Linked DNA regions of Homo sapiens: all the other regions are linked to region 3. The links come from fine-mapping of genetic effects on gene expression. A gene starts in region 3. Each other region holds a variant in brackets. All regions are shown on one strand. Distances are from middle to middle. Region 1 has its middle 6.1 kb from the start of DENND1C. Region 2 overlaps SLC25A23 (solute carrier family 25 member 23). Region 3 holds the start of SLC25A23 (solute carrier family 25 member 23).

Evidence for each region. PIP is the estimated chance that this variant, and not a neighbour inherited with it, causes the effect.
Region 1: its variant is fine-mapped to the expression of SLC25A23 in whole blood (INTERVAL, PIP above 0.99).
Region 2: its variant is fine-mapped to the expression of SLC25A23 in left ventricle (GTEx, PIP above 0.99).

What each region holds. Positions count from the first base shown.
Region 1 is chr19:6,484,886-6,490,857 of GRCh38, forward strand. No RefSeq gene overlaps it. Among named protein-coding and RNA genes, the nearest start is that of DENND1C, 6.1 kb to the left of the region's middle. RefSeq lists an enhancer at 4,798-5,067. The variant C/T (reference allele first, on the strand shown) is at 2,240.
Region 2 is chr19:6,436,196-6,442,167 of GRCh38, forward strand. SLC25A23 (solute carrier family 25 member 23) reads right to left here. Exons shown (of 10, transcript NM_024103.3): 10 at 3,869-5,964. The coding sequence ends at 5,780. It also overlaps a transcript of SLC25A41 not described here. Among named protein-coding and RNA genes, the nearest start is that of SLC25A41, 5.4 kb to the left of the region's middle. The variant T/G (reference allele first, on the strand shown) is at 3,281.
Region 3 is chr19:6,456,899-6,462,870 of GRCh38, forward strand. SLC25A23 (solute carrier family 25 member 23) reads right to left here and starts at 2,894. Exons shown (of 10, transcript NM_024103.3): 1 at 2,575-2,894; 2 at 1,300-1,426; 3 at 605-692. The coding sequence starts at 2,730. RefSeq lists silencers at 2,646-2,705, 2,756-2,895, 3,406-3,585.

The sequences.
Region 1 (5,972 bases), 28 kb after region 3:
AAATAAATAAATAAATAAATAAAAAGAGGTTTGAGCTAGGTGTGGTGATAGCGCCTGTAGTCCCGGCTACTTGGGAGGCTAAGGCGGGAGGATCACTTGAGCCCAGGAGTTCAAGCCTACAGTGAACTTTGATTGCACCACTGCATTCCAGCGAGTGACAGAGCAAGACTCTATGTTAAAAAAAAAAAAAATTAAGGCTGCTATGACAAAATATCTGCAACCTCTGCCTCCCAGGTTCAAGTGATTCTCCTGACTCAGCTTCCCAAGTAGCTGGGACTACAGATCTGTACCACCATGCGTGGCTATGTAGCTAGCTACTTGGGAGGCTGAGGCAGGAGAATCGCTTGAACCTGGGAGTTGTAGTGAGCCAAGATCGTGCTATTGTACTCCAGCCTGGGTGATAAGAGCGAAACTCCATCCCCCTACCCAAAAAAAAAGAGAGATGGGGTCACACTCTGTCACCCAGGCCGACGTGCAGTGGCGCCATCATAGCTCACTGTAGCCTTGACCTCCTGGGCTCAAGTGATCCTCCCACCTCAGCCCCCTGAGTAGCTGGGACTACAGTTGTGTGCTACTGTACACACAACTGTTTTTTTTTTTAAATTTAATTTAATTTTATTTTTGAGACAGGGTCTCACTCTGTCACCCAGGCTGGAGTGCAGTGGCACGATCTTCACTCATTGCAACCTCTGCCTCCTGGGTTCAAGCGATTCTCCTGCCTCAGCCTCCCAAGTAGCTGGGATTATAGGCGTCTGCCACCGCACCCAGCTAATTTTTGTATTTTTAGTAGAGGTGGGGTTTCACCATCTTGGCCAAGCTGGTCTTGGACTCCTGACCTCGTGATCCACTGATCCACCCGCCTCGGCCTCCAAAAGTACTGGGATTACAGCCATGAGCCACCACGCCCGGCCCTTTTTTTTTTTTTTTTTTTTTTTTTGTGAGACGGAGCCTTGCTCTGTCACCCAGGCTGGCTGGAGTACAGTGGCGCAATCATTGCAACCTCTGCCTCCTGGGTTCAAGCAATTCTCCTGCCTCAGCTTCCCGAATAGCTGGGATTACAGGTGACCGCCACCACGCCCGGCTAATTTTTGTGTGTGTGTTTTAGTAGAGATCTGGTTTCCCCATGTTGGCCAGGCTGGTCTTGAACTCCTGACCTCAAGTGATCTGCCCGCCTTGGCCTCCCAAAGTGCTGGGATTACAGGTATGAGCCACCGTGCCTGGTCAGCTCAGCTAATTTTAAAAAATATTTTTGTAGAGATGGGGTTTCGCTTTATTGCCTGGTCTGGTCTTGAACTTCTGGCCTCCAGCAATCCCCAGGCCTCGGTCTTCCAAAGTGAATGGGATTACAAGCACGAGCCACAGTGCCCAGCCTGTTTTTATTTTTATTTTATTTATTTATTTATTTTTTGAGATGAAGTCTCACTGTCGCCCAGGCTGGAGTGCAGTGGCGTGATCTTGGCTCACTGCAAGCTCCACTTCCCAGATTTATGGCATTCTCCTGCCTCAGCCTCCCGAGTAGCTGGGACTACAGGTGCCCGCCACCACGCCTGGCTGATTTTTTTGTATTTTTGGTAGAGACGGGGTTTCACCGTGTTAGCCAAGGTGGTCTGGATCTCCTGACTTAGTGATTCACCTGCCTCGGCCTCCCAAAGTGCTGGGATTACAGGCGTGAGCCACCGCGCCCGGCCGCCTGTTTTTATTTTTTTAATTATTTTAAGAGATGGGGTCTCCCTCTCTGTGTCTCCTAGGCTGGAGTGCAGTGGTACCATTATAGCTCAATGCCACCTGTAACTCCTTGGCTCAAGTGATCCTCCCACCTCAGCCTCTTGAGCAACTAGGGTTATAGGCACAGCCACCACACATCGTTAATTTTTTTGTTGTTTTTGAGACGGAGTTTCACTCTTGTTGCCCAGGCTGAGTGCAATGGCACGATCTTGGCTCACTGCAACCTCCGCTTCCCAGGTTCAAGCGATTCTCCTGCCTCAGCCTCCCAAGTAGCTGGGATTACAGGCACCCGTCACCACGCCTGGCTTATTTTTGTATTTTTAGTAGAGACGGGGTTTCAGCATGTGGCCAGGCTGGTCTGGAACTCCTGACCTCAGGTGATCCATCTGCCTCAGCCTCCTGAAGTGCTGGGATTACAGGTGTGAGCCACTGCGCCTAGCCTTTTTATTTTTATTTTTAATTTTTTTGAGAGACAGGGTCTCCATCTGTTGCCCTGGCTGGAGTGCAGTGGTGC[C/T]ATCATAGCTCACTATAGTCTCGAACTCCTGGGCTCATGTTATCCTCCCATCCCAGCCTCCCAAGGAGCTAGGACTACAGCAATGTGCCACCACACCCAGCTAACTTATTGGAACAATTTTCATAGAGACAGGGTCTTGCTATGTTGCCTAGGGTGGCCTCAAACTCCTGGCCTCAAGAGATCTTTGTGCTTCAGCCTCCCAAAGTCCTGGGATTACAGGTGTGAGCCACAGTGCCTGGCCGAGCCAGTAGCATTTATCTTCAAATCTCTCTCACTTGCTGGGACTCCTGCTTTTGTCCTCACTTCTTCTCTGACTCTGATCCTCTGTCTCCCTCTTATAAAGATCCTTGTGATTGTATTGGACCCACCCAAATAATTTGCCATAATCCTGTTATCTTAAAATCCTTAACTTTGCCAGGCATGGTGGCTGACGCCTGTAATCCCAGCACTTTGGGAGGCTGAAGCCTGAGGATCGCCTGAGGCCAGAAGTTCAAGACCAGCCTGGGCAATATATCAAGATCCTGTCTCTATAAAAAAATCTAAAAAAATAGCTGGGTGCAGGCCAGCTGTGGTGGCTCACGCCTGTAATCCCAGCACTTTGGGAGGCTGAGATGGGTGGATCACCTGAGGTCAGCAGTTCAAGACCAGCCTGGCCAACATGGTGAAACCCCATCTCTACTAAAAATATGGAAATTAGCCACGTGTGGTGGCGCATGCCTATAATCCCAGCTACTCGGAAGGTTGAGGCAGGAGAATCGCTTGAACCTGGGAGGTGGAGGTTGCAGTGAGCTGAGATCATGCCATGGCACTCCAGCCTGGGCGACAGAGTCAGACTCCACCTCAAAAAAAAAAAAAATTAAAAATTAGCTGGGTGTGGTGGTACACGCCTGTAGTTCCGAATCAGGAGGCTGAGGTGGGAGGATTACTTGAGCCCAGAAGGTCGAGGCTGCAGTGAATCGTGATCACGCCACTGCTCTCCAGGCAATAGAGTGAGACTCTGTCTCAAAAACAAACACAAAAAAACCTACACCTGGCCGGACGCGGTTGCTTGCTCTTGTAATCCCAGCACTTTGGGAGGCCGAGGTGGGTGGATTGCTTGAGCTCAGGGATCCTCCCACCTCAGCCTCTGACCAGCCTGGGTATCATGGTGAAACGCCATCTCTACAGAAAAGCTAGCTGGCATGGTGACACATGCCTGTAGTCCCAGCTACTTGGGAGGCTGAGGTAGGAGGATCACTTGAGCCCAGGAAGTCGAGGCTGCAGTAAGCCATGATTGTGCCACTGCGCTCCAGCTTGGGTGACAGAAGGAGACTAAAAAAAATGTTGAACCCCCCAAAGCAACTGCCTCATCAAAGTTTGGGGAAATACTTTAAAAAAAAGAAAAAAAGAAAGAAAGAAACAAACAAAACCAGGCTGGGTGTGGTGGCTCACACCTAATCTCAGCATTTTGGGAGGCTAAGGCGGGCCGATCACCTGAGGTCAGGAGTTCGAGACCAGCCCCTGGCCAACATGGTGAAACCCCGTCTCTACTAAAAATACAAAAAAAAATTAGCCGGGTGTGGCGGTGGGTGCCTGTAGTCCCAGCTACTTGGGAGGCTGAGGCAGGAGAATCATTTGAACCTGGGAGGTGGAGATTGCAGTGAGCCAAGATCGCACCACTGCACTGCAGCCTGGGCAACAAGAGCGAAACTCTGTCTCAAAAATAAATAAATAGGCCGGGCGCGGTGGCTCACGCCTGTAATCCCAGCACTTTGGGAGGCCGAGGCGGGTGGATCACAAGGTCAGGAGATCAAGACCATCCTGGCTAACATGGTGAAACCCCATCTCTACTAAATATACAAAAAATTAGCCTGGCGTCATGGCGGGCGCCTGTAGTCCCAGCTACTCGGGAGGCTGAGGCAGGAGAATGGCGTGAACCCGGGAGGCGGAGCTTGCAGTGAGTCGAGATTGCGCCACTGCACTCCAGCCTGGGCAACAGAGCGAGACTGCATCTCAAAAATAAATAAATAAATAAATAATTAATAAACTAAAAACAAAAAACAAAAAAGCAAATAAAAAGTCCGTACACTTCTGAGTAGTTAAGTGCCTTGTGCAAGGAAGGAGGATGCTGAGTGGGGAACCCAACCCAGATCTATCCATTATGCTGCTACCTAAATCCTTTGTATTGCTGGTCTACCACCCAGTGCTGTGCTGTGCTGTGCTGGGCCTGCTGAAGTTGCCGTGGGCTGATGTCCACGCTGCTTCCCTCATGCCTCTCCTTACTCCTGGCTGCAGGGGGACGTAGCAAGAAGACTGAGGCTCCAGCCTGGGTGCCTGGTGTCTAGCATAGAGTGGTGGACGTTACTGCTTGGCTCTCCGCGTGTCCCCCTCTCACCTACCCTTGCCCCTGGCTCGTCTTCCTAATGCAGACGCTGCAAAAAACCCCTCCAACCCCTACATTTCCCAGATGCCTTTGCTGCTCCGTTTCTGGATGCAGAATTGGTTCTACCAATGAGAAATGCTCATGAGAGATTTAGAAAGTGGAAGTGAGGCAGTGTGGGCTTGTGTGTATATCTTGCTGAGAAGCAGGGTTGTGGAGCTATACATTTTATTTTCATGAATTCGTGTTCTTTGTTGGACCCATTTCCAGGTCATAGTTCTGGTAACTGCCTCTTTGTTCTCCACCTTTCTCCCTATACAAAGGAGCTGCTCCTTGGTGACCCAGCTCTGTGGTGTCACGAGGGTCCTACCTATTCCGGGGCTGCTCAATCTGTGGTCTTATTCACACATCTTTAGCATCTCCTGAGAACTTGTTAAAAATGCAGAGTCTTGAGCCCCACCCCGGACCTACTTACTGAATCTGCAACTGTGAGGGGGTGAGACTGAAGAAACTGTGCGTTAGCAAGTTGTTCTGCTGATTCTTTTGCACGGTAAAATTTGAGAAGCCTACACAGCCCACTCTCTCAGCGTCTTCCAGTGATTTTGCAAGCACCATCGATTCTTGTATTAAGTTCCTGTCTGCTTAATATACCTAGAATGGTCCCCACACGGAACTCTGGCTGCCTGTGTCAGGATTCTAGGGTTCAACTAGCAGGGTTTGAATTCCAGCTCACTGTTTAGTAGCCATGTGACCATGGGCAAGTGACTTTGTGTGGCAAATTGTAATTTATTCCTTCATTTTTTCCTTCCTTCCTTCTTTCCTTCCTTCCTCCCTCTTCTCTCCCTCCCTCCCTTCCTTACTTCCCTCCTTCCTGTCTTCCTGTCTTCTTGCCTTCTTCTTTTCTTCCTTCCTTCCTTCTTTCCTTCCCTCCTTTCTTTTCTCTCTCTCTTTCTTTTCTTTCTTTCCTTCTTTTTTTTGAGACAGAGTCTCACTCTGTTGCCCAGGCTGAAGTGCAATGGCACGATCTCAGCTCACTTCAACCTCTGCCTCCCAGGTTCAAGTGATTCTCCTGCCTCAGCCTCCTGAGTAGCTGGGATTACAGTTGCGTGCCACCATACCCAGCTAATTTTTTGTGCCTTTAGTAGAGACGGGGTTTCACCATGTTGGCCAGGCTGGTATTGAACTCCTGACCTCGTGATCCACCCGCCTCAGCCTCTCAAAGTGCTGGGATTACAGGTGTGAGCCACCGTGCCCAGTACATTCCCCTCCCCTCCCCTTACTTCCCCTCCCCTCCCCTTCCGTTCCCTTCCCTTTCTTTTCTCCCACAGTGTCTCACTCTGTCACTCAGGCTGTCGTGCAGTGGTGCAATTACAG
Region 2 (5,972 bases), 21 kb before region 3:
TAGGAACTCAGGAGCCGCTGAGCCGGCTGTTCCCGTGATCAGTGTTTGAAGTATAAGAGTCTAAGATTCAGGATTCAGGTACTGGGATCCAGTTGTTTCGGTGGAGGGATCCACAAAGCTTGGACTATCCAGGGAATTCAACTGATAGAATTGCAGTGAGATGTTGGCCAGGACAGCAAGATCCTCTTCCAAGCTCAGTTACATGGCTATTGGCTGAGTTCCTTACCACATGGTCCTCTCCATAAGGCTGCTCATGGCATGACCACCGGCTTCCTCCAGAGCAAATGTTATGAGAAAGGGGGAGAGAGAGAGAGAGAGCATGTAACCAATAACCAGGATGGCAGCGACAGTGTCTTTTTTTTTTTTTCTTTGAGACATAGTTTTGCTCTTGTTGCCCAGGCTGGAGTGCAGTGGCACAATCTCGACTCACTGCAACCTCTGCCACCCAGGTTCAAGCAATTCTCCTGCCTCAGCCTCCTGAGTAGCTGGGATTATAGGTGCCCGCCACCACGTCCGGCTAATTTTTGTACTTCTAGTAGAGACGGGGTTGCCATGTTGGCCAGGCTGGTCTCGAACTCCTGACCTCAGGTGATTCACCCGCCTCGGCCTCCCAAAATGCTAGGATTATAGACGTGAGCCACTGCACCCAATCTTTTATTTTTTTATTTTTTGAGATGGAGTCTTGCTCTGTTACCCAGGCTGGAGTGCAATGGACCAATCTTGGCTCACTGCAACCTCCACCTCCTGGGTTCAAGTGATTGTCCTGCCTCAGCCTTCCGAGTAGCTGGGATCACAGGCATGTGACACCATGCCCGGCTAATTTTTGTATTTTTAGTAGAGACGGGGTTTCACCATGTTGGCCAGGCTGGTCTCAAACTCCTGGGCTCAAGTGACCTTGAACTCCTGAGCTCAAGTCATCCTCCCATCTCAGCCTCCTGAGCAGCTGGAACTACAGGTATATGCCATCATGCCCAGCTAATTGAAAAATTTTTTGTAGAAATGGGGTCTCACTGTGTTGCCCAGGCTGGTCTCAAACTCCTGGCCTCAAGCGATCCTCCCACCCCGACCTCCCAAAGTGCTGGGTTTACAGATATGAGCTACCCCACCCACCCTGAATTTTCTATTTTTTCCACAATAAATTTGAATTACTCATTGTGGGTTGAACTTTGTCCCCCAAAAAGATGTGTTCAAGCCCTAACCCCAGTAACCTGCAAATGTGACCTTATTTGGAAATACGGTCTTTGTAGATATAATCAAATTAAAATGAGGTTACACTGGATTGGGGGGGGTTGCCCTAATCCGATGACTGCTGTCCTTACAAGACATGGAATCGGCCAGGCGCAGTGGCTCACGCCTGTAATCCCAACACTTTGGGAGGCTGAGGCAGGCGGATCACGAGGTCAGGAGTTCAAGACCATCCTGGCTAACATGGTGAAACCCCGTCTCTACTAAAAATACAAAAAATTAGCTGGGCATGGTGGCGGGTGCCTGTAGTCCCAGCTACTTGGGAGGCTGAGGCAGGAGAATGGCATGAACCCAGGAGGCGGAGCTTGCAGTGAGCCAAGATCGCGCCAGTGCACTCCAGCCTAGGCGACAGAGCAAGACTCCATCTCAGAAAAAAAAAAAGGCCGGGCGCGGTGGCTCATGCCTATAATCCCAGCACTTTGGGAGGCATCCTGGCTAACATGGTGAAACCCCATCTCTACTAAAAATACAAAAAAAAAAAAAAATTAGCTGGCTGTGGTGGCGGGTGCCTGTAGTCCCAGCTACTTGGGAGGCTGAGGCAAGAGAATGGCATGAACCCGGGAGGCGGAGCTTGCAGTGAGCCGAGATCGTGCCACTGCACTCCAAAAAAAAAAAAAAAAACAAACTTGGAATTTGCACTTTGGGAGGCCGAGGCGGGTGGATCACTTGAGGTCAGGAGTTCAAGACCAGCATAGTGAAACCCCGTCTCTACTAAAAATGCAAAAATTAGCCAGTTGTGGTGGTGTGCACCTGTAATCCCAGCTATTCTGGAGGCTGAGGCAGGAGGATCACTTGAACCCGGGAAGCGGAGGTTGCAGTGAGCTGAGATCACGTCATTGCACTCCAGCCTGGGAAACAGAGCGAAACTGCATCTGAAAAAAAGGATGGAAATTTGGGCAGAGAGACACAGACACACATAAGGGAGCATACAGTATGAAGATAGGCAGGCAGTGGAGTGATGAGTCTATCATAAACCAAGGAACACCAAGGACCATGTGGCTCACACCTGTAATCCCAGCACGTTGGGAGGCTGAAGGCTGGCGAATTCCTTGACCCCACGAGTTCGAGATGAGCCTGGGCAACATGATGAAATCCTATTTCCACAAAAAAGAAGTAATAATAATTAGGCCAGGCACGGTGGCTCACACCTGTAATCCCAGCACTTTGGGAGGCTGAGGTAGGCAAATCACCTGAGGTCAGGAGTTCGAGACCAGCCTGGCCAACACGGGAATACCTGGTCTCTACTAAAAATACAAAAATTAGCCGGGTGTGGTGGTGCGCACCTGTAATACCAGCTACTCTGGAGGCTGAGGCAGGAGAATCGCTTGAACCTGGAAGGCAGAGGTTGCAGTGATCTGAAATCGAGCCACTGTACTCCAGCCTGGGAAACAAGAGCAAGACTCCTATATCAAAAAAAACAAAAACAAAAAACCAACCAACCAAACAAGAAATTAGCCAGGCATGGTGGCATATGCCTGTGGTTCTAGCTGCTCGGGAGGCTGAGGTGGGAGAATTGCTTGAACCTGGGAGGCAGAGGTGGCAGTGAGCCGAGATCGTGTCACTGCACTACAGCCTGGGCGACAGAGCGAGACTGCATCACAAACAAACAAGCAAGCACAGAAACAAACAAAAAGTTGGGCATGGTGGTGGTTGCCTATAGTCCTAGCTACTTGGGAGGCTGAGGTGGGAGGATCACTTGAGCCCAGGAGGTGTAAGCTGCAGTGAGCCGAGATCGCACCACTGCACTCCAGCCTGGGTGACAGAGCGAGACCCTGTCTCAAAAATAAATTAGCTGGACATAACGGTGCGTGTGCCTGCGGTCCCTGTGGTCCCAGATACTCAGGAGGCTGTGGTGGGAGGATCGCTTGAGCACAGGAATTCGAGGCTGCAGTCAGGTACGATTGTACCACTACCCTCTAACCTGGGCTGCAGAGTGAGATCCTATCTCTCTCTCTCTCTCACACACACACACACACACACACACACACACACACAGACACACAAATTGTTTTAAGCCATTCTGTTTGTGATAATT[T/G]GGTCTGGCAGCCCTAGGAAAAGGATAATTTGAAAAAAAATTGAAATTTGTAATTTGAAAAAAAATACAGAGGCCGGGCGTGGTGGCTCACGCCTGTAATCCCAGCATTTTGGGAGGCTGAGGCAGGTGGATCACTTGAGGTCAGGAGTTCGAGACCAGCCTGGCCAACATGGTAAAACCCTGTCTCTCCTAAAAATACAAAAAATTAGCCGGGCGTGGTGGTGGGTGCCTGTAATCCCAGCTACTCAGGAGGCTGAGGTAGGAGAATCGCTTGAACCCGGGAGGCAGAGGTTGCAGTGAGCTGAGACCGTGCCACTGCCCTCCAGCCTGGGCAACAGAGTGAGACTCCATCTCAAAAATAAATAAATAAATAAAAATAATAAAGCCCAGAAAATTTAGAAGGGGTTATAAACAGGGACTCCCTCCCCTGCTCCCATTTTATAGATGTGTAAACTGAGGCTCAAAGAGGGAATCATTTCCTGGCTCTTGGAACTGTGGGTGTTGGGAAGCAGCCCCTTGTCCCTTCCCTAGGGGTAGACTAAGGTGGTCCCATAGCCACCCACCCCCTTTTCAGTAAAAACCACAATAAAAGAGCTTAGAAAATTTATTCCTTTTGTTCTTTTCCTTTGAAATAACACACACAGGCAGGGAGGTGGGGCGCAGTGGAGGTCGAAGGAGGTGGAAGCGTGCGGAAGTCCTCCAGCCCCTCCCCAAATCCCAGTTCCCCTTTCCAAGTCCCTCCATGGGGTCTCCAGATGATCCTAAGCTCAGAATCCAACTATGAAGTGCAGAATGTAAGGGCGCAGGGGAGGAGGACTTTGCTCCTCTCTCTGGTAGAAAAATAGATCTGGAATGAATTTGGGGATTTGGTGGTTTTTTTTTGTTTTTGTTTTTTGCATCATTGGGTGCTTGGGTTTAGGGAAGGGTGGTCTTTGCCGATTTTCTCCTGGCTTTCAACTCTGGAAGCCTGGGGAGGCCCTGATAGTGCTGGGGTGGGGACATCCCTTCATGTGTCCCTGGCCTCAGACTGTCTCCTTGCCAGCCTCCAGGAGTGAGTGATTCCTCGGACCCCTTGGAGGAACACAGCTCTGGGGACTATTCGCCTAGAAGGTGGGAGGGGGATGGAAGATGCTGTGAAGTGTGGGGATGCAGGGAGTGGAGTGGTTCCAGGGAACAGTTTCCCCACAGGGCTGGGAGGGGGTGGCCATGCAGAGGTGGGGTGAGGGGGAATCCAGCATCCGTGCAGGTTGCAGCCAGGACCTGGGCTTCCTTCCCCACAGACTCCCTCGACCATGCAATTTCATGTCATGAGAAGCCGGCTCTGGGCACCAGTGTGTGTGGGATACTCTGTGACTGGGCTGCCAGGATCTAGACTTGGGGCCTGAACATTTGGGACCCGGCGCCTGGAAGATTCAGATCAGAAACCGGGGATTCAGGGCTTGGGATTCAGTGCCTTGGAATATCAGGATCTGCCTTCAAGAGATGAGGTTTCAACATTGAGGGACTGGGCAGAGGGATTGGGGACCCAGAATCTGGAATCCAGCAGCTGCAGTTGCCAGGATCCACTTGCTGTGCCACTGGGGCCCCCGCACTTGTTTTAGGAGCCAGAATCTGGTGGGTGAAGGCTTGGGAATCTGGGATCCAGTGCCTGGGGGTGGAAGGCGTAGTGCTTGAAATGCAGGGATCTGGCAGTCAGCAGAAGGATCTGAGACCCAGTGTCGAGGTTAAAAAAAAACAAAAAACCAAAAACCAATGCAGGAATCCAGTGGGTGGAGTGAGGGGATCTGGGATCCAGTGATGGGGGCCCCAGGATCCAGGCATTGTGGTTGTCAGGATCCAGTGGTGAGGTTTGTTGACATCCAGAATCCAGCAGCTGAGCTTGGAGATCCAGGGCTCGAGGCATGGGGATCTGGGGTTGGGGATCTAGGATCCAGCGTTTCACTAGGACACTGGATCTGGTGCCTGAGGGAGGCAGGGTCTGGGTGTTGAGGTACAGGGAATCCGTGCTCCTGTGGTTGGGGTGTTGGGATCCATTCACTGATTTGTGTGGGATCCAGTGGTTAAGACGTAGAGGTCCAGGATCCAGTAGGGGGCACAGGGAAGCGTGGGATCCACCTTAGGATGTGGGGCTGCAGGATCCAGTGATTTGGGGGATGGGGATTAAGGGCTGGGGTGTGGATAATCTTGAATCTTGTGGTTAGGGTAGCAGACTTGAGTTGCTGAAGTAAGGGATCCACAGTTATGGTTACAGGGGGATCTGGGATCTAGTGGCTGAAGGGTGGGGATCGCATGACCCAGTGGTTGGGGCATAGGAGTCTAGGATCCAGGATCTGGATGCTGGGATCCCATGACCCAATGGTTGGGGCATAGGAGTCTAGGATCCAGGATCTGGGTACTGGGATCTCGTGGCCAAAGAGTAGGGATCCTGTGGTTGGATCATCAGTCTCCAGTGGCTGAGGTGTGGGGGGTGAGGGATTGGGGGGACGGGCTCCGGGTCCCTCACCTGGACGTGACCCCCAAGGCCTGCTTCATGTTCTCGTAGACCACATAGGAGATGCTCACAGCTGGAATAACCTTCATGAAGTTGGGGGCGATCCCCCGGTAGAGGCCCCGCATGCCCTCCTGGGACAGGATGTGACGTAGCAGACCCAGCATGGACAGCTGGGGGCCACCCTCGATGGAGGCTGGGAGG
Region 3 (5,972 bases):
CCATCTCTTGACCTCGTGATCCACCTGCCTCGGCCTTCCAAAGTGGCAGGATTGCAGGCGTGAGCCACCATAGCCAGCTGTATTACCCTCATTTTGTAGAGGGGGAAACGGGCTAAGAGAGGCAACTGGTCCCAGATCTGTCTGGCTTCAATTTGAATTTTTCTTTCTTTTTTTTTTTTTTTTTCCAGAAGGAGTCTCACTCCGTCACCCTGGTTAGAGTGTCCTGGCCTGATCTTGGCTCACTGCAACCTCCACCTCTTGGGTTTAAGGGATTCCCGTGCCTCAGCCTCCCCAAGTAGCTGGAATTACAGGCATGCACCACCACGCCTGGCCAATGTTTGTATTTTTAGTAGAGATGGGGTTTTACCATGTTGGCCAGGCTGGTCCCCAACTCCTGACCTCAGGTGATCCACCTGCCTCAGCCTCCCAAAGTGCTGGGGTTACAGATGTGAGCCACTGCGCCTGGCCAGATCTGTCTGACTTCAAAGCCCCAACCTCTCAGCTGTATCCTCCTTGGGACTGGGTCTGGAGCCCAGAAGACAGAGATGGCCAAGGGGTCACTGTGTCCTGAGTTACTTTGGATTCCAGACCCCCAGCGACTCACCTGTGCAAAATTTTCTCAGCCTGCTCCAGCGAGATGGAAATGCCCAGAGCTCGGAAACTCTGTTGGATCTCAGAGACATCAATGTGACCTGGGGAGGGGGCCGGAGGTGGGGAAGGATGTGCGTGTGAGGACACCTGGGGAACCCCAGGACCAAGGATCAGAACAGCTTGGAATGGAGGTGGTCTAGCAAGATCAGGGGCTCCAGAAACCTAGGAGGAGGTTTGCAGTAGGGCTGTGGGGGGACCCCTGACTCACTGGGGTCAGAGAGGTGGAACTGGGAAATACTGGGGGGGCTTCTCTGTTCTGTAAATGAATGAAGGAATCCAGGGGTAATTGTAGGGGTCTCTATGCCATGGGGGATTGAGAGGCAATATCCACAACCCAGATGCTGCTATGAGGGGATCTCTGTCCCACAGGGGACCCAGGAACAGCATAGGGTATCTTTGCCCCATAGAAAAATCTAAGGGTAATTATCGGGGTTCTGCCCCAGTAGGGAAAGGAGGTGGGATGGGCTGGCTGGGCCTCGAACCACCTAGCTAGGGGGTGAGGAGTGCTCCTGAAATAGCCTATGAGTCATCGGGGAGAAGCGGCCCTCCCCCTCTCCTCCTAGCGCTGCCAGTTCTAACCCCACTGATGTCTCTAGGGCCCCCACAGCCCTATCCCTTGGGGCCTGCAGGCAGGTCGCCCGACCTTACCATCCTGGTTCCGGTCAAGACTGTGAAACATGAGCAGCAGACGCTGTTCCCGCTCCTGCAGATAGCGGGAAAATTCCTCCAGGTCGAGCCCGCCATCTGGGTCAGCATCACCCTCAGAGGAGATACCCTGACAGAGGGAAAGGGGATAGAGGTGGCTCCAGGAACCTGCTCCTGATCTGGAGGGGACGCATGTCACCTTATGCCTTAGGAACCCAGAGCCCCCAGCGCCTTGAGGAAGGGGATAGAAGACGTCACCCCACTTCTCCCTCAGTCAGCTAACTTCTCAGCCAGATCCCTACAGCCACCACAGGTCTGTGCGGTGGGTGTGAGTGGTCTAGTTTTCCTGGTGAGCAAACTGAGGCTCTGCAAGGTCAAGTCACCAGTTCAAGGTCACAGAACCAGGAAATGGTAACCTCAGTTCTCATCTGTAAAGCCTGTCCTTCCAGCTGTCTCTTGTTTTTAGTTTTTGTTATTTTTTTAGGTATCTCATTCCTGTTGAACCCAGCTGCCTCTTAAAAAACCCTGTCCACATGGGGGACCCAGGGGTTCCCTTTGGAGGAAGCCCTGGGCGATGTGGGGCAGGAGAGAACCAAGCGGAGTGGCTGAGGCCTTGGTTTTTCCCATTTGGGAAGTGGGAGGTTGGACTGCTCTCAGGGTTGCTGTGGTTCTCTTAGAGCGATCTGGGGCTACAGGTGTGGGAAGGACCTGCAAAGTGGAGGTGGGGGCAGCGGGAGGAAAGTCTTGTTATAGGTGCATTCCCAGCTGCGGGTGACCGCAGACAGGATTGGGTCCCTGGCTGGGGCAGCCCGGGACAGTGAGCCAGGCCCGTGAACGGCCCATGAAAGGGCAGGCCAGGGAATGTAAACACAGGGATCGGGGCAGCTGCAGGCCAGGGCAGTAGGTGCCCAGAGGATGGAGGGTGTGTCTCCTGGAGGTGAGAGCAGGGCACGTCATGGGCTGTGCAGTCTGGAGGAGGGTGTGTCCCGGGCAGTGGGCAGGAAAGCGCCCCCATCTCTTCCCAGGCAGACGCCCCCTGCCCCGCAGCAGGGGGATCGGGTGTTGGCCGCGGAACTGCAGGCTTGGGGCCTCGGCGTCCCTGTCTTGAGCGATCCCGTTAGGCCAAACACGAGTGGGTAGGGGGAACGAGACAGAGACACAGGTTCTGGAGTCCAGCCACAGGTAGTCCCTGGTGGCTCCGGCCGCCCAGTTCAGGGGCTTGGGTAACCGGGAGCGGGCGGGGCCGGGAGGGGAGGAGGTCCCTGGGGGTGGGGGTACCTGTTGGGCGCCGGGGTCTGGGTTGCCCCCGCCCAGCCTGGCCAGCCCCTGGCGCAACTCGTGCACGTCCACGCGGCCATCCTTGTTACTGTCCAGCTCCTCGAACAGGCGACCCCAGCGCTGCCGCCGCTCCGCGTCGCCCGGGCTCCCCCGCATGGCGCCCGCCCGGGGGGGAGGGGAGGCCCGGCAGCGGCGGCCTCAGTGGGGGCTTCGCGGCTCCCCCTCCCCCCCCGGGACCCCGCAGGGTCAGCTCCCGCGGCCGCCGGCTCCGCAGCCTCCGCGCAGTCCGCTCGGCTCTGGCACTTGCGGGAGGTGGTGACGGCTAGCCGTCGCCGCCCGCGCCAGAACTTGCGTCTCCTCCCCCGACCTGCATTGGGGGGAGGGGACCGAGGGCGGAGCTGGGGGCGTGGGGAGGGAATGTCTGGGATGGTCTGGTATTGCACAGCCGAGGAACACCAGAGTTCCTTCTGGGAAGACGGGCTAGGGAGCTCAGTGGTCTCAGGTCTGGTTTCAGAGTTCCGCCTCTGCGTGCCTCAGTTTACCCTTTCCCCCTTTGCCCAAGGGGGCAAGGTAGAGCGCTGTCGGGGATTGGGTTTCATAATCCCCTTCCACTTGACCTCCCCGCCACACCCACTAATCTTCAGGAACTCAAGTTCTCGCTTTTCCCAGACGCACGCAAGAACCGTGCACCATCTCGCTCGCTCTCTGCCCGCCCGCGCCTTACACCTTCCCCGCTCGGCCGCAGAAACAGAAGATCCAGGAGCGATGCTCTCCCACTGTCCCTTCTTCCCGCCCGCGCGCTTCCTTTCTCGGTTCCCACTCTGACTGGGAAACAGAAAATCAACGCGCGGCGCGGCTGCAAAGTCGGTTTCCTATTGGTCAGCGCCTCCTGGGCTGAGCCCGCCCGCCCCGCCTCTTCTCCCACCTAGGCGGGGCCTCCCCGCAGACCCCCGACTGCCTCCAGCCCGCAGTCCCACCGCCTGCCAGGAGATCTTAAAGGGGCCGCGGCCGCAATCAGACGCTGAGCGGCGTGGGGAGGGGGTGGCTCAGTGACCCGGGCGCGGGGTTGAGGATCCCAGTGGTCGAGCGCTGGAGGCAGGGCCCCAGCCTGTCGCACTCGCTGCACCTGCGGAATGTCCCTACTGCTAGTTTCGGGCGCAGTTTCTCGATCCACCATTAGGGGGAAGGGAGCCCAGACCACTTGACAGCGAATACTCGATAACAAATCTCACTTTGATTCAGTGCTTTGCACATGCCAGGGCTTTTACTCACCTCTCGAGTCGTCTTTGCCAAAACCCTATAAGGTAGGTGGTACTGGCGTTCGCACTTTGCAGATAAGGAAGCGGAGGTTAAGTCATTCTCCCCAGTCCTGATGACCACTAAGGGGCAAAACAGGGTTTAAAGAGATCTGGGATCCTTAACCATCACTCTATACCCTAGAAAGAATTAATTATCTTTTTTTTTTTTTTTTTTTTGAAACGGAGTTTCGCTGTTGTTGCTCAGGCTGGAGTGCAATGGCGCGATCTCGGCTCACTGCAACCTCCGCCTCCCGGATTCAAACGATTCTTTTGCCTCAGCCTCCCGAGTAGCTGGGATTACAGGCGCCCGCCACCAAACCCAGCTAATTTTTGTATTTTTAGTGGAGACGGGGTTTCACCATGTTGGCCAGGCTGGTCTCGAACTCCTGACCTCGTGATCCGCCCGCCTCAGCCTCCCAAAGTGCTGGGATTATAGGCGTGAGCCATCGCACGCAGCAGTGAGTTTTTTTTTTTTTTTTTTTTTTTTTTTTTTTTTTTTTTTTTTTTTTTTGAGATGGAGTTTCGCTCTTATTGCCCAGGCTGGAGTGCAATGGCACGATCTCAGCTCACCACAACCTCCGCCTCCCGGGTTCAAGCAATGCTCCCGCCTCAGCCTCCCAAGTAGCTGAGATTACAGGCGCACACCACCACGCCCGGCTAATTTTTGTATTTTTAGTAGAGACGGGGTTTCACCATGTTGGTTAGGCTGGTCTCAAACTCCTGACCTCGTGATCCGCCCGCCTCGGCCTCCCAAAGTGCTGGGATTACAGGCATGAGCCACCATGCCCGACCGCAGCCGTGAGTTTTGTATTTTTATTAGAGACGGGGGGGGGGGGTTTCACCTGTGGACCAGGCTGGTCTCGAACACCTGACCTCAGATTATCCTCCCGCTTCAGCCTCCCAAAGTGCTGGGATTACAGGCGTGAGTCACCGCGCCCGGCCTGGCCTAATTATTCTTTAATCATCACTTGTCACCCAAGGGTCCTCAGGAGGGGGTCTTGTTATTATCATCATCCTTTATCCAAAGATACAGCATTGGCCGGTCTCGGTGGCTTAGGCCTCTAATTCTAGCAATTTGAGAGGCCGAGATGGGAGGATCGCTTGGGGTCAGGAGTTTGAGACCGGCCTGGGCAATATAGCAAGACACCCAACTCTACAAATAATAATAATAATTATTATTATTTTTTTTAAAAAGGAAAGAAAACAAAGATACAGTCGTGAGGGCATATTTAGTTCACGCCCAGCCTCTGCCTAGACAGGTGTGCTGGAACAGGTGTGCCCCAGACAAATGAGTCTCTTCTAAGAGGCTCCCCAGCAGAGGTTTTCATTTACAGTTGTTCCTTGCAGGTGCCATACAGCATGGAGTGATACAGAGGTTTTTTTCCATGTAAGTGCCCCTAAATAGGTGTTTTCTCACAGATACATTCTTGACAGGTGGGCCTCAGTGTATGTGAGCCCCTGCCCTGATGGTTTTACCCACAGATGTGTGTCAATGTGAGTGTGCCCCGTGCAGATGTTCCAAGTTCTTCCCCTCACTTGAGCTCAATTCCATACAGGTGTTCCTCCTACAAGGTGCTTTCTCTTACCTCACAGGTATGTTTCTGAGCAGGTTTCCCTCCACCCATGAATGCATTCTACAGTCTCCCGCCCCGTAGGTGTGTTTCAGTTAAGTATACACCCATCTGGGTATGTTTCCATACAACCGAGTCCCATACAGGTTTACGTAAATGCAGGTGTGTCTCATACAGGTATTTACAAGACACTGACACCCAGGAATTCCCCCAATGCAAGTGCCGTACATTTCATAGGTGAGCCATGCAGATATGTTCCTAAAACAGGTCTATTCCACATCAGAGTGCCTTAGTTAGCTGTTTGTGATGATAATGCAGGCGTGTTCTATAGAGATACTGTCCACCCTGGTGGTATGTATCCATTTGGTTATATTTCTTTTCTTTTTTTGACAGTCTTGCTCTGTCACCCAGGCTAGAGTGCAGTGGCGTGATCTCGGCTCACTGCAACCTCCGCCTCCAGGGTTCAAGCGATTCTCCTGCCTCAGCCTCCCAAGTAGCTAGGATTACAGGCGCCCACCACTACGCTAGC